Linked DNA regions of Homo sapiens: region 1 is linked to region 2. Evidence: fine-mapped expression QTL. A gene starts in region 2. The other region holds a variant in brackets. All regions are shown on one strand. Distances are from middle to middle.

The links.
Region 1: its variant is fine-mapped to the expression of FYB1 in whole blood (INTERVAL, PIP 0.94).

What each region holds. Positions count from the first base shown.
Region 1 is chr5:39,193,113-39,201,454 of GRCh38, reverse strand. All of the region lies in intron 2 of FYB1 (FYN binding protein 1), which reads left to right. Among named protein-coding and RNA genes, the nearest start is that of FYB1, 22 kb to the left of the region's middle. RefSeq lists an enhancer at 6,614-6,908. The variant T/A (reference allele first, on the strand shown) is at 4,219.
Region 2 is chr5:39,215,825-39,224,166 of GRCh38, reverse strand. It overlaps FYB1 (FYN binding protein 1), which reads left to right and starts at 4,604. Exons shown (of 19, transcript NM_001465.6): 1 at 4,604-4,724. RefSeq lists an enhancer at 3,027-3,528.

The DNA.
Region 1 (8,342 bases), 23 kb after region 2:
AATGAGCTATCCTGTAGGTCAGCAGTTCCCAAAGGGAACAATTTTGACCCCCAGGGGACATTTGGCAATGTATGGAGGCATTTTTGATTGCCACAACTGGAGGGTGCTACTGGCCTCTAGTGAGTAGAAGCTAGGGATGCTATTGAACATCCTACAATGGCCAGGACAGTCCCACAACAAAGAATTATTCAGGCCATAATGTCAATAGTACAGAGATGACAAGCCCTCCTTTAAGTGACTGCAAATATCCACACAATTCATCATGTTTCCTAAGCCCAGTATTCAAATGAGAAAGGAGCAGTACTCATGAAATGGTACTTTGTGTTTCACATTTTAGCTATTTTCCATTTCTCAGTATAAAGTTTTCTGAACTTTTATGATTCATAAAGTAATATATAGTTAGGAAAATGAGCCAGACAAAGGAGTACTTTACTCTCCTTTCGGGTAAATAGTTTAAATTTCTACCAGAGATATCACTGCAATTCTCTTGGATGTGGTACTGAGTGACTGCATGTAAGAAGCTCACACATGCCTGAGATGATTAATATTTTAGGTAAATGATGTGCAACTGTTGTTTATTGTGAGGGGGAAACAAGATGCCTACAGGTGACCACACTACTTGTAGTCGCATCTTTCTCCTTACCGAAGTATGGTCTAGTTAAAGCAATTCTAAGCCTAAAGGTTGTTTTTCGTTTTTGCACTGTAGAAACATCTTGCGATATGTTATCTTCCTGAGTTCAGTATTCTCCTTGTTCGTAAACAGCTTAGTGATCAAGTCCTCTGCTAATTCAAACACACAGAAAGCAAGTTTGGAATGATCCCATGACCATCTGTCTTCCAGAAAGGTTCATCCTTGTTTCACATTGCATCTCCTCCTCATCTGTCATCTTGTTTCATTACCAGGTCATAATTCAGAACTATTATTTTTGTGAGACTTTCTAAAAGGTCCCTTATTTCTCTTATTTCTTCACCTCGGATAAAAAATTTAGTATTATGACCTCCATTTTATGGCTGTGACTTCACACCAGGGAAGGAGTTCTGATGTTAGGCAGAAATCCCTGGGAACTTTCTTCCATCTTTGTTTCACTCCCGCTCCAGTGTGGGTGGTGGCAGAGCATGGTGGTAACACATGTTGCCCGGTGTCACGCTTTTCAGTGAGTTGCCACAAATGCTAACCAAGTCCTCTTTCTGACTCTGAAGGCCTGACAAGGTCTGATTTTTAGTGAAGTAAAGCTACAAGGGACCCAGGCAGAACTGCAGAGCAGACGGAGTTTATCCTTGTTCTCCTTCTCCTCTCCTTTGCAACCCTCCCCTGCTCCTGAATGCTTCCTCACTGTCAGTAGCCCATGCCACAGTTCACATTTTAAATCCTGTCATCAGTGTAACCCCCTCAACATCTGATGCCTTGAGATGTATTATGCTCCAAAATGTATCCTGTTCTCTATTCATTCACCTCTTCCACAAATCAAAACTCAATCCCTCTTAATCTAGATTGACCTCATTTGATATCTGGATTAAGCAATCTGATTCATAACTTTAAACTCTGAATAATACCCCTTTAAAGCATTCACCTTTTTAAAAAGCATTTGAATTCTTTTATCTTTTAAGTAGAAATTACATTCTGACTGAAAAAGCAGTAAGTGTAAAATGGTGTACAGTGAAGCTACCTTTAACCCTTGTCTGCCACTTTCTGGGTCTTTCCAGCCCCTACCCCATAGAAACCACTCTTCTTAATTTCTTATATGTCCATCTGAAGTTTCTTTATGTTCACAGAAGCAAATATGAACATAAATACTACCCCCCACCCCGGCTTTTTACTCATGAAGTAGAATATTATGTGCAATGCTCTGATCCTTGTATTTTTAAAATAAATAAATCCTGTATATCTTTCCACATTTTAATAAAGAGTAACTGATTATTCTCTAGAGTTGCATAATACTTCAGTAAATGGGTGACAAGCTTAATCAATTTAACAATTTGTGTTGTTTCCAAAAGCGTTCTTTTGCAACAATACTGCAGAAAATAAACTCGTGTATGTGTCATAAAGTAAGCATTTATTTTCTGAACACAAAGTTTTTTAAGTCAGGTCTGCTGACTCTTGATCCTGCCACTGCTATTTTTCTTAAACAATGCTAGAAATACTAAGTAATTTACCATTTCATTTAGGAAGGTTAAAATATATCAGAATTAGAAAGTATATGTTCATTTTATATAACTGGATAAGCAATATAAAGAAAAGAATTAAATTTCTGTTGTAGCAAAATTTTTTAAAATTCTGAAATTCTATTTTTTATAATTCTGGAGTATGTAAGTAGAAAATAAATAATTATTAAATAATTAAATAATAATATACATATACGTATACATAAACATGTGGTATATTGTACGTACAGTCTTTAGATGGGAAAATTCTTTATTAAGTGTAATTATCGCCCCCATTTCACAAATGAGTGTTGAGATGTGACATAACCAAATCATATATCTGAGGCTAAAATCCAAGTCTTCAGATTGCAAGTTTAATACTTTCTCCATGTACCATCGTGCCCCTGTATGTATGTTTGCATGTTTATGTTTAAAGCATAAGTGTATTATTTATTTATATAGAATATATATGCAGATATTCCTTGACTTGTGATCGGGTTACATCCTTATAAACATTCTTAAGTTGGAAATATTATAAACTGAAAACACGTTTAATATACCTAACTACCAAATGTCATAGCTTAGCCTAGCCCACCTTAAACATGCTCTGAACACTTACATTAGCCTACAATTGGGCAAAATCATCTCACACAAAGCCTATTTTATAATAAAGTGTTGACTATCTCATGTAATTTATTGAATACTGTACCATGGTTTCTACTGAATGCATATTGCTTTTGTACCATCATAAAGTCAAGTAATCATTAATTTGAACTGTCATAAATAGGGCACCATCTGTGTATGTATACATATTATTACTAATATGTACATGGGATTTTAACTTTTTTCAAAGGACTTTCAAAATGTTTATGTCTTTTATTACTTATAATGTCCCATGAATTAGATACAGCAGTTTAATGAACCCATTTTAAACCAATGTGCAGAGTTGCCAGGTTATCTATTAGTAATGTTATTAATGGTACAGAGCCTAGCATGAGAGTTGTTTGCCATATAATGTAGACTTCAAAGTCAGTGGACCTGGGGTTTAAGCATGACTAATGTACTAGCTATGTGACCTTCGCTTTACCTCTTTCCGTGTATGTCTTTCTTCATTTGAAAAAACGAGTATAATACCACCTACTTCGCCAGCACATTATAATCACTACATGAGATTCGTTGTAAGTGCTTAATACAGAATTTGACATATAATAGTATCAAAATAAGTGAGCATTGTCTATAATTTTATTACTTTTATTAGCATTAAAATTTTATCACCAGCCCCATGATATTCTGATCATCTTATAGTATAAATCATTTTATATTATACTATATTATTCTAGGAATCATGAAACTGCATTTTACTTACTTCTGTTTGTAATATAGAAATGTATTTGTGATTTATGATGCCAGAGTCAAACAATGATTGTTGGAAGAGAGGTTTCCCACCAGAAGTCCATGAAATTTCTGCGCTCAGATGCCTCCTTCCCTACAGCAAAGGCTGGTAGAGAGCAGTAGGCGGCACCCAAGTGGCACTAGGTCACAAGTGCCCCCAGATTTTGCCATCTCCTACTGGCTGAAGCCAAGCGAAGGCATCTGACTCAGCCAAGCAGAGGTGGAGAGGCTGCAAAGCCAGTATAGATGGCTGTTATCCCAAGACACTGGTATTATCAAAGGCAGTTTTCGAAGGTCATTGTTTCCAGAGTGCATTTGCTTTCCCCATTACCTGTCAACCTGGAAGAAATAAATAAATGTGGCCAATGGATTTGCTCTGGATTATGATTGGCCACAGCTGCTTAGATTGGCAACTTCCAGGGAAAATGCTTCTTAGTGTGCTGCTACAGACCCTAAAATTTTTTGAGATTGGAGTTTTTACATGAACTCCAACAAAAAATGCCCTAAACACACCTGACTAGGCATGAATTTTCATATAACAGGGCTTCCAGATAAATTATTTGCTGCATGGTATAATTAGAAAATTATTTATTTGCTTGTAATAAAATGGGAAAGAAGAGAGATTCTATGCTTTAGAAAAAATGAGATTCTATTACTAAATATTTATTCACTAAGATTTAATAG[T/A]TATTGACGGGAGCAAAATGAAATGCCTTGCTCAGTGAATGCAGAGACTCCAAAAAGACTATTTTTTCTTGTTAGAAGTAATTATACTAGTGTTCAAATTAACAAACATTCATCTAATAACTCTATATGCCTTTTAAACTAATACTGTTTTCATAGCCTTCTACCTCATTTCTTCCTTTCCAGGTTCTCATCCAATTCTTTAAACCTCTTCCCCAGATATACCCTCCATCTCATCATCTTTGCCCAATGTATTAACTGTTAAAAATATTCATCATTTATTGAGGACTTGCTATATACCACATACACATTATGCCGTTTATTCCTCTCAAGCCATGAATAGGAATTCTATGAGTAAACTAAAGCTCAGAGAGGTTAGGTAACTTGCCCAAAGGCATAACATGACTAAACAAGGCTGGGGTCAATCTCATGTCTTTCTGATTCCGCAGACTGTGTTCCCACCCGCATTCCACTTCCTCGTGCTGGGCTGCCTCTCTTCAAACACAGAATATCACAAGACAATGAATCAAGCATAAATGAAACTCCCAAAATCCTCATTCCTCTCCCTTTCTGTGGCCTTTGGTTGAAACATGCCTTTTGTTTGTTGTCTGTTTTGTAAATACCACTATAAGCTCCATGAAGACAGAAGCCAGTCTGCTTGCCATTCTCTCATTTGGAGTACAAAAGTAATATAAATTTTTGTTAGCTTCTCAAGTTTATTCTTTCACAGAATTCTATTTAACCAGACCGGGTGCGGTGGCTCATGCCTGTAATCCCAGCACTTTGGGAGGCCGAGGCGGGCTGAACACCTGAGATCAGGAGTTCAAGACCAGCCTGGCCAACATGGCGAAACCCCAAAAATACAAAAATTAGCCAGGCATAGTGGTGCGCACCTCCCAGCTACTCAGGAGGCTGGGGCAGGAGAATCATTTGAACCCAGGAGGTGGAGGTTGCAGTGAGCCGAGATTGCACCACTGCACTCCAGCCTGGGTGACAAAGCGAACCCTATCTCAAAAAAAAAAAAAAAAAAAGAAAGAATTATATTTAACTAGAATTTATTTACTCCCAGATTTTGTTCAGTATTAGATTTTAATACTCTATAGCTTAGCAATTGTTTTAACACAATAGATAACCCCTGCCAGTAGACTTGTACTCAACTGAATGGAGCTTGGACACAAAATAAATGTTATAAGAGAGGGTCTATCTTGCAGATCTATTGAGCTCCCTTCCTTGTAAACTGTAAGCTTGACTCTAACATGTTGCTTTCTGATCATGAAGCTAAATTTTTTTTTCCTAAGAACAATTTAAGGTTACAAAAGACTAAACGTTTTTTTTAAAAAAACCCAAAATATCAAAATATTCTCTGAACTAACCTTTCCTTTGCTTCCTTTTGGGTCCTGAGCCAGTTCTGAAAGGGCTTCTTCCCATGTGTCAACACAATGCCTCACCAAAGTTTGGGTTCATAAGAATCCCTGGCCTGACTATTGGTTTGCATGTATGATTTAGTAAAAACCTGCTGGGAAATATTCAGTTTGACCCTTTTTTCTAGTCTTGTTCTTAATACTGCTGAGAGACCAAGACTGATTTTTTCCATATGTTAGCTATAGGAATGATCAGTTAAGCACCTTGACAGCAACAGGTGTAAGGCGAGGGCCCCAGAGGGCATTAACAAAAGACTGATGGCCCCCTCCTCATCTGTGTATGTATCATTTAACTAATCCAGCCTACAACAACTTGAAACCAAAAGGTGCCTGGGCTATTTTCACCAGCAAGTAACTTGTTTCCAGGAGTGGGTAAGATTTTCCTTCACAGGCCCCAAAGCTATCACCTTTCTTTTTCCCCCCATTCTCCTTTTATGTGTACTCTCTTAACATGACCTTATTAGATATTTACATATTGAAAACTGTTTTATATCAGCATGTGGCAGTATTTTCCAAATTGTTGCTCCTAGCCACCACAGGGAAAAAGGATTCTATGTTCACATTTTAGAAACGTAGCGGTAAGTGCTATTCTTTAAAGCAAGATTTCTCCAAGTATTAATATGTCACTGTGCACTGGGAACGTAAGAACATGATACAAAAAGAAGAGATCCCGGGATGCTTTGACTGAAACGGCTCACAGACTGGACTATTACAGGACACTGAATCACTGGAGGCAAAGCTCTCTCATACACAGACTGGAATTTGGAGTTGCTCAACGGCGTGGTTCAGCTTCGGGTAACAGCCAGGCCCTCAGCACACCCTGCACGCTCGTTCTCCCAGGACCTGGTGCACACTTTGTGGCTGGTGTCACTCTTCTTTTTACTCCAGCCCGAGCCCAATTTATTCCACCCACCCTCCTTAATCCCTGAAAAAGCAGTTGTCCAGAAGACCTCCAGGGCTTCTTCCTTCTGGTGCATGTTGACGTGTCTGAGGAACACACTTACTATTAATCAGGCAGCTTACCTGGGTTTAACCCCATAATCGAAATGCCTCAGAAAGACTCTCTTCCCTTAACCACACTGTCCCTGGTCAAATTTTACGAACTACCCCTATTAATCTTCCCTCTTTGAAACTTCTTTCTTCTGCTCTTCTAAGATAAGCCAGCAAACAAACTGTTCCCTCTTGTTTCCTATCCCAGCAGCATCCGTTGGTCTTTTTTAATGCAAGATATCCTCCCTTCCTTCCTTCCTTCTTTCCTTCCTTCCTTCCTTTTTCTGTCTTTCTTTTTTATTTTTTGAGACAGGGTCTTGCTTTGTCACTCAGGCTGGACTGCAGTGGCACAATCACAGCTCACTGCAGCCTTGAACTCCTGGGCACAAATCCCTCCACTTCAGCCTCCCGAATAGCTGGGACTACAGGCACATATTACCACGTCCAGCTTTAGTATTTTTTAAATTTTTTGTAGAGACAGAGTCTTGCTTTGTTGTCCAAGATGGTCTAAAACTCCTGGCCTCAAACAATCCTCCTGCCTCAGCTTCCCAAAGTGCTGAGATTACAGACATGAGCCACTGCACCCAGCTAATGTTTCATTTTTATAAGCAGTCTACATGGTCTTTATTTCAAGATTCTGGCATTTAAATTTACTGTGGAGAAGTATGCAGACAACCTAAATTTCCCTCTTTGAAAATGATTTGCTTTTCTGCCTGGATTTCCAAAGAAATCTTTGTCCTTAAGGTCAAGAATCTTAGCCAGGATATGTCTGTGTCAATCATTTTATCAGTATTCTCTCAGGCTCTCAGGAATTTACTGTGCTATATGAATAGGGGTCACACTAGTTCTTTTGATCTGGCTGATGGATGACAAGTGCATCTGCAAGTTCTAATCCAGTGTGATAAATTTGCCTTCCCCTCAGAATTGCGATTTGAGTTCTGAGTGTGACTTTGAATCCACTCTTCTGTGGCATAAATGTTAGCTGTGCTCGTCTCCAGGGTAGTCCTTACTGGGGACCCAGATTCCGTTCCATTTTCTGAGATCTCATTCAGTGCCCTGTACCAGGGCAGGGCCAGCCCTGGCAGCTCATCCCCCTTCTGCCTCTCGTGTGATCCTGTTGTGGTATTTAGGACTTTTATGCTGAAGGATTTTCCTTGACCTTCCCAGGCTGCTCACTCACCTTACAGTTTGCTTCTCCAACCTGGAGTGTATTAGAGAGAATTCACAGGCTTGTCTAGAACCACTGTCTTCCCCCAGTATTGCTTCTGGATGTAGAGAACAGGTGGGAAGGTTAGCTCTCCTCCGGTGGCACCAGAACCTTCTATTTCTTCCCTTAGCCATGACTTTTTGAAGTTTATGCATGATGTTATCTTCCCTTTCTTGTGAGGTGACCGCTAGTGAGTTTTAGATAATGTTTGCCTTGACTTATTTTCTTTTTTAGTATTTTTAACTTGGGAATTGGAGGAGGGACACTCTGAAATTTCCCATCCTCATTTTTAAATACCAACTAAATACTTAAATTATAGTCTAAGGATCAACATTTCCAAAAAGATCATCGATTTGCTCCCTCACAAGGCAGACAGCAAGATGGCAGAACTATTAATAACATGCATTGAGTGCCCACCCCAAGCCTTGTTCCATGCTCTCTGGACCATGCTCACTGGTCAAGGACACTCAGGTGTCCTCTAACCCCTCCCCAAGTCTCCTACTCTGAGG
Region 2 (8,342 bases):
AGATGGCTGGAATGGCCATCGGTTTCGTGTTATTTACTCCTTTGAGAATATTAACTTCATCATTTTTTTAATTGTGGAAAAATATAATTGCTAGTAAGTACAACAATAAGTACAGTATTTAATTTAGAGGACAGAGAAGCAAGCACATTGACAAGTGATAGGCATGAACAGGCTGACACCTCAAAGTCATCATTATACTGAGCAGACAGCACAGGATAGGGTTTCTCCACCTGGAGAAGAGGGGAGTGTGGGATGAGATAGGGACAGTAGAAAATTTGGGCTGGGGTATAAAGACAGAAATTCTTATATCTGAAATGGATATTTGATACTGGGAGTAGTGAGTTGAGAATAAGCTGACCTTCTCCATCTCTACTACACCCACCCCCACTCTAATTCTCTTACCTAGGGTTTTATCTCCTTGTATTGCACAACAGAGCTGCACCAGATAGAGAAGTGGAAACCTAGTTTTTACGTCCACAAAGAATGAGCTACTCATTGAGACATTCATCATTTGCTTAGAATTACTCTTGCATGGGGGAATGGAAGCCCTAAACATTTAATAAATATCCAGAAGCACTGAGGTGTTAGCTTGATTCTGTAGCAGATGTTAAGACCAAAAACTTTATTTAAGAAGCATTTGAATGATTTTTTTAAATTTAATTGCTCAGGTTTCCCTGTAATTTATGAAGGCCTTTAGTGAATAGCCACAAAAATAATGAAAACTTCATATTCAAATAATAACTTAATATTACATTACTGGTTTCCTTTAGAAACATAATGCAAGTAATTCTTTTCAACTTCACCTTCTGTCAACACCATCTCAAGGAGGACTATACATAAAGGAAAATATGCTCCTCATATTTTTATATTTTCCTCTAAATGATAGGGGAAAATACTACTACTATACGGTGTCTTAAAAGTCTTACATTAATTCTCCAGTTCAGAAAATTGGTTGCCTGTAGCCAAAGCATGTAGTAAAATAGGTTTGCATGAAAAGCAATGCTTTTGCTTTTATTTTTTTATTTTTTATTTTTAAATTTTATTTTATTTTATTTTAAGTTCCAGGGTACATGTGCAGGATGTGCAGGTGTGTTACATAGGTTAACGTGTGCCATGGTGGTTTGCTGTACTTATCAACCCATCACCTGGGTATTAAGCCTGGCATGCATTAGCTATTTTTCCTGATGCTCTCCCCTCCATTGCCCTCCCCCAACAGGCCTCAGTGTTTGTTGTTCCTCTCCCTCTTTTATTGATTATAAGACACATAACACAGAGTGACAAGGGGAGAATCAAATGTAATTATCAGCATCATCATCTTGTTGTAATCAAATAATATTACTGCACAAATTTTCCTTTGTGAGCAAAGATTTTATAAAAATAGAAAAATGGGTGTTTATTATTATGTAATAATAAGAAAAGCTCAAAATAAGATAAATTTGAGCAAGTATCTATACTTCCGCTTATTTCGGAAACATACCATCATGTTACTAAACTCACCTCATAGCATTTTAGTTGTTTTTATTAAATCTTCAAACCTTTCAGACACTACTAAGCATAGAGACCATTCATAACAAATGAAACTTTCAGTTTTTTAAACTAAAACTTTCTAAATGTGTACATTTCTTTTCTGCCTTTTTGGAAAGCAAACTTTTAAAAATGTATATACTTTTAGGACACAGAGGCTGAGAGATATAAATTGCTGGGCTCACCTTCCCTTTAGTGGGACAAATGCATTAAAAAAGAGCAAGAGTCCCACAAACCAGGAAGCTGCCCTTGGCCTCTAATACATTAATTAATGTTTATAAAGTGCCTTCTGTATGCCTGGCAATGTACTACAAGCTGGAAATCCAGGACAAATAAGCCACAGTTACCGCCAACCCTTAAGGAACTCATGATCTAGTGAGAAACACAGACATATCTCCAACAACTAAGAGAGAGTACAAGACGCCAGAGCTCAGAAGGCCTTACCCAGTCTTGTGGGACAAAGTTCAAAAGGAGATCATATCTACACTGGGTTTTGGAGCATAAGCAGGAGTTAGCCAGGTGAAAAAGGAGAGGGGGCAGTACATTCCATGAAGACAGGGCGTGTTGCTTGCTTTTGGAGGATTATTTCATTTTATTTTATTTTATTTTATTTTACTTTATTTTATTTTATTTTATTTTTGAGACAGAGTCTTGCTCTTGTTGGCCCGGGCTGGAGTGCAATGGTGCAATCTCAGCTCACTGCAACCTCCGCCTCCTTTGTTCCAGCAATTCTCCTGCCTCAGCCTCCTGAGTAGCTGGAATTACAGGTATGCACCACCACCACGCCCAGCTAATTTTTGGATTTTTTAGTAGAAACAGGGTTTCACCATGCTGGCCAAGCTAGTCTCGAACTCCTGACCTCAGGTGACCTACCCTCCTAGGCCTCCCAAAGTGCTGGGATTATAGGCGTGAGCCACCTCACCCAGTGGATTATTTTATTTTGTTTTGGCCATCTGAGAGAGGTTGGCAGAGAGGAGAAGAAAAACAAGTAATCCCAAATTCCAGTTAGGCTTCCTTCATGGCCCAAGATCAACTGTCCCATGTTAGGTAAAGTCTTCCTCAACTCTTCTGCCCCCATGCAGAAGGAATTACATATTCCTGGGTATTTCCAGATGCCTTTATTCATACTTTGAGCTTAATACTCATCACAGTGTGTCATGGTTAGTTATACAGTGTCTATCTCTATAGTGGTTATAATACATGTTTGGTTGCAGCAAAAGAGACACAACATAACACTGATTTTTAAAAGTTAAATGTCTGTCCTCCTGTTCCCTTCTTTATAACCATCTAGCAAAATCCAGTGAAGATGGGGTTGTCTCCTGTGTTGGGGGCCAGGTCCTTCTATCTCCTGGCTCTGTCATGCCTAGAGTATTACCTTAGTCATCACTGGATCAGAAGAGCTCAGGCCCCCACAGCATCCCAGCCAGCTGGGAGGGGAAAGCATGATGGGGCCCTCTTTTAGGACACACCAAGAAGCTACATAGATCCCTTCTGCATAGATCCCATTGACTAAAACTTAACCACATGGCCAAATCTAATGTCAAGAGGGACTAGAAAATGCCTTATCCTGTGTAGCTGTGGGCCAGGTAAAAAGCCAGAGATCTCTTAGGATAGAATAAGCATCCTAAACTTTTGGCAAACTTTTTCTGCAGAGGACTAGATAGTAAATATTTCAGGCCATATACGGTCTCAGCCATGTCATCATCATTGTTGTCATCATCATTGTTACCATCATTGTCTTCTTTTGCTTCTTCTCCCTTTTCTTACAATTCTTAAAAAATGTAAATTCTTAGCCTGAGGTCTGTACAAAACATTCCACAGGCCAGATTTGGCATGCGGGCCATAGTTTGCTGACCCTACTACTCTATAAGAAGGGAAAATCATACGGGGAGGAAAGTGACCATCTCTGGCATAACGTCTGTAAGATTATAAGCCACTGAGTGGAAAATCCTTGTCTTCTCCATCTTTCTAGTCTTGGCCAGTGCTTGACCCACACAGTAAGTGTTTGATGTTTATGAATGAATGAGTAGAAGGAAGGTGGGGGAGGTTAATTTCACAATCACAATTTGTTAAAATCTCATTTAGTCCCAATGGTAGCCTCTGTTTTGGGGGGTTTCTTTTCTTTTCTTGTCTTTTCTTTTCTTTTTTTCTCTTTTCTTTTTTGAGTTTCTTTCTTTCTTTCCTTCTCTTTATTTTTCTTTCTTTCTTTCTTCTTTTTTTTTTTTCCTTCAGACAGGATCTTGCTCTGTTACCCAGGCTGGAGTGCAATGGTGGTGCAATCATAGCTCACTGAAGCCTTGAACTCCTGTGCTCAAGAAATCCTCCCACCTCAGCTTCCCAAATGTCTGGGGCTACAGGCATGCACCATCACACTTGGCTAATTTTTTTTTTATTTTTGTAGAGACAGGGTCTCACCATGTTGTCAAGACTGGTCTTGAACTCCTGGTCTCAAGCAATCCTCCTGCCTCAGCCTTCCAAAGTACCGGGATTACAGGCATGACCCACTACACTCAGCCCCACTGGTGGTCTTTTCACATGGATTATCATCTAAATACTCCATTTCTTCCAGCCTCAAGAATAGTCTAACAGAGAGCCGACAGAGTGAGTCTAGTGGGCTTTCCACACATGAGTGACCACTCTTCAGTTGATATGGTCAAGCACACCACTTTACCTCCTGACCTCAGGTGCAATTAGCTTCCAAATATTCCACATGCTCCAGTGGACCTTTCTAATTGTAAGCATCCCCCTTTGGCCCCCATTGCAGGTGACACTCCTGGGTGTGTGGAAAGATTATGGGTCCAAAGAACTTACAGCTTCTTCCTCTTGAATAAACATGGTGGCAGGCAGGAGAATCTTGTTTTGGTTTTACCCTTTTAAATATCACATGCTTGGTGGGAATGTTAGCAGAAGTATCCAGGCTGAACAGACACTTTTAAGTTCCCCTTTCTCCTCCTTATTACTCAATATCCTGAGGGCATAATAGAACTTTTCTTGTCTAAGTTTGCCTGGTCAGGGGAGGGAGGTGTGGCTCACTCAACCACTGACCGGGACAAAACCCTGCCAGGCATCAGAAAGCTCCGCAGTTCTTGAGTTCCACATGCAGAGCAGATGCGACAGCTAGAAGTGAGTAGGGCCCAGACCCTGGCCCAGGAAGATCCACTAAAGGAGGCCATCCTTCCGCCTTCTTCTGCAGGAGTCAGGTAACAGCTATGCCTAGGTTTCTTCTTTCAAATAAATGTGTAATTTTTTATAGCAGGAAAAAAGCACCACTTCCAAATTCTGGCAGCACAGACTGTGCTAGCTGAATAACTGAAGGAAACGCATGTTCTGTTGGAAAATAGCAAAAGAGATGAACAGGAGACACTAAAACTCAGCCTCATGGTAGCCAAAAGGATGATAAGCAGATAAAAATGTGGCCGGGAACGTGTCTGTCACTTGCTCTTTCGTAACTGGATAAGGCCTCTCATGTGTTCTTGTTGGAACCTCTGGTGCCACTAGCGTTAAATAACGTCTTGCAGTGAAACCAGAAACAAGGTTTTATTGCCAACAGAGCTGGGCACAGATGGTTTATTTCATCCTGGTTCCTAACAAATATGTGTCCATCCTTTTGATGAGAAAGAGTAACTTTCAATTTCCTCCAAACCTGGCAGGAGGTGAGGATTCACATGAGATTTCTACATAGACTAAAGAAAGGGACTATACTGCCATGAATTATGCCTTCTCAGAAGGAATCCTGGCAAACTGGATAAATGATGACAAACAGCTGCAGATCAGCCAAGGAGGCCTTTCAAAGCAACCAGCAACTCCAAATTTTCCTCGGAGCCTTTGGCTGTCTTGTATACATTGCTGATTCTTCTGAAAAATTCACAAGGTCTTTTCCCCCCATTTAACTTGATTTGCAGGGAAGTAATTAATAGAAATGGGCCTCTGACTCTGCCTTCTATTAGCTGTGTGACTTTGGGAGAGCCACTTAACCTCTCTGTGTCTCAGTTTTCTCATCTAAACATGGGGATAATAATAGAACTCATCTCATGGAGTTGTTGAGGGGATAAAACTATATACACTTTTTGAGTACTAATGTAAAATAATAATTAATATTCACCATTTTAAATATTTTTTCATTAAATACAAATAATTCTGCGTGGGAAACAGATGGGCTTATCACCGGAAGGGTGAAGTTGTGGCTGTGATTTTCTGCCCATGCTATGGGAATGCCACCGGAGGTTTTAGGTAGAGTAAAACGTCCCCATGCAATGTGAGATACACACACTTCAAATAGTCCGATACCTTAAGAAATTAATCATAAGTGATAGGTGAGGGGGAGGAGGATAAGGGTGCTCTTTCCAATAAAACCACATGTTTTATGATGTACCATTAAAGGCGATCCTGAATATCAAAGGCGTTATGGTGCACTTAAGGCACCCCGTGGAAAAGTTGACCATCCGTTTCAAAAAGGAAAGGCTAAAAAGGTTTCCATTTCCCTTGAGAAATTATTGTAAAGGTTGAAATCCACACTGCCTGACTGTCATGTCCATTATTTGTTTACTACCATTGGGCTTCAAATTCCCCCCAGCTTCTGCTGGAGTCCAGAGGCTTGGAAGCTCGCAGCAGCTGATTTCTGGTGCAATGCTGCACCTTGCCAAGTTACGGCTGCTTCATAGAGCAATCACACTGACATCTAGTGGTCTAAAGAGTAAGTGCAGGCGGTGGCTTTGAAGCTTTTACCAGCCTCAATGTGCTTTAAAAACCACATTTTCCACCATTTACACAATACGTTAACAAGAGAGAGAGATCAGGGATGTAGAAATGATATTTCATTTGTCTGAGGTGTTACTAGAGGCTGCTCTACAGGAACATTTCTAAAAACAAGAAAGTGAAGAGAGTGAACCGTGGCTCGCTGGCGGGTTTGGGCTGTGGTTCCAGGGGTTGCGGTTAAGACTGTGACTCCAGAATCAAGATCCTGAGCTTGAAGGTGGTCTCTGCCACGCACCAGCTGTGGGCCTTGGGTGAGTTCCTAAATGGTTCCATGACTCAGTTTCTTTATCTGTCAAATGGGGATAACAGTAACGTCTCCATTGACCTGTTTTGAGGTGATCCCTGAAAAGCTCCTAGCACAGCACCTGGCCCAGAAGGCAATCGGGGTTGCCCTCTGTTCTTGTTGTGACTGTTTTTTAAGAGCAAGCTGCTGCAGAAGCTGGCACCCCACAGGTCAGACAGCATAGCGCAGTGGAAAGCTCAGAGGATGAGCAAGGGAGAGACCCAGATTTTAGCCCAACTGTGTGAACCTGGACAGATCCCTTACGCAGTTTCTTTTTTGTAAAATGAAGGACCTTGGTTCGCTAATGTTTAAGGATTTTTTCCTTTCTCAAACGTTGTGTTCTAAACCTTGTACAGGCTTCTAATTGAAATTGTTCTACCTTTAAGGCCCATTTGTCTCCTTTCTTTTTACCAAAGCCCAGGGCCAAGCATGTCCCAGGTGTTTATTATATAGTTGCTGACTGATAAGAAGTGATTGTTGGAATGCTCTCTATTGGTCACTAGGAATAAACCAAGAATGTCTTTGGGCAGGAATGAAAATCCAGTGGGAAGCTCTGGAAGTCAAGGAATATTTCCCCATCAGAAGCTGGTCTGGGGTTTCTCTGATAAATTTGGAAAGCTCAGTGGTTGTCTTGTTTTTCTACCTCTGCTAATCAGCCTCTCTAAACAGATAAGAAACCAGGAAAATCATTTAGCTATATAAATTCAATACATAACCTTGTTAATCACGTTGCTGCAGCCTGCGCCTTGTGAGTTGGTCAGAGCAGTGGATGACTTTGCTTCTAAGTGCAGGTGAAATGCCACCAAATTCACATGCTGCCTGTGACCAATGCCTAACTCAGTCTTTCCAAGCCAGGGATAATCCCAGCTGGGATGTCACCTCTAATATGGCAACAAATGGTGGTGCAGCAAAAAATAATCATGAAACAGTCTTTCTTCCCTTCTTCCTAAACTTCATCCACATAGACTGTTGGATATTTATAGAAATCCAGCACAAACACAGGGAGGGGAACGACACACACTGGGGCCTGTTGCAGGGCAGGGGGAGAGAGAGCATCATGATAAATAGCTAATGCATGTGGGGCCTGATACCTAGGTGATGGGTTGAGAGGTGCAGTAAGCCACCATGGCATGCATTTACCTGTGTAACAAACCTGCACATCCCGCACATGTATCCCAGAAAGAACTTAAAATAAAATTTAAAAACAAATAAACAAAAGAGTGAACAAAGGAGGGAGCTGCGGGTAGAATTTTAACAACATGCATACCACTATTTTTATATTAGAGATTTCTAATATATGCTAATATAAATATATGCAATATTAAAAATCGTATTATACACACACACGAAAAAAGTTTAATTTGGGAGTTTTGTAAGGGCGTGTATTATTTTCCTGTGGTTTCTGTAACAAAGTACCACAAACTAGGCAGCTTACAACAACAGAAATCTATTCTCCCTCAGTTTTGGAGGCCAGAAGTCTAAACTCAAGGTGTCAGTAGAACCATGTTCCCTCTGGAGGCTCTAGGGGAGGATTCGTTTCTGGCCTCTTCCAGCTTCTGGTGGTTCCAGGGATTCCATGGCTTGTGGTTGCATCACTAAAACCTCTACCTCTCTTGTAAAATGGCCCTCTCCTCTTCTGCTGTCTCTTCTTCTCTATCTTATAAGGACACTTGTCATTGGATGTAGTGCTACCTACATAACCCAGAATGATTCCGTTGCATGATCCTTAATTACACCTGCAAAGACCTTTTTTCCAAATAAGGTCACATTCACAGGTTCT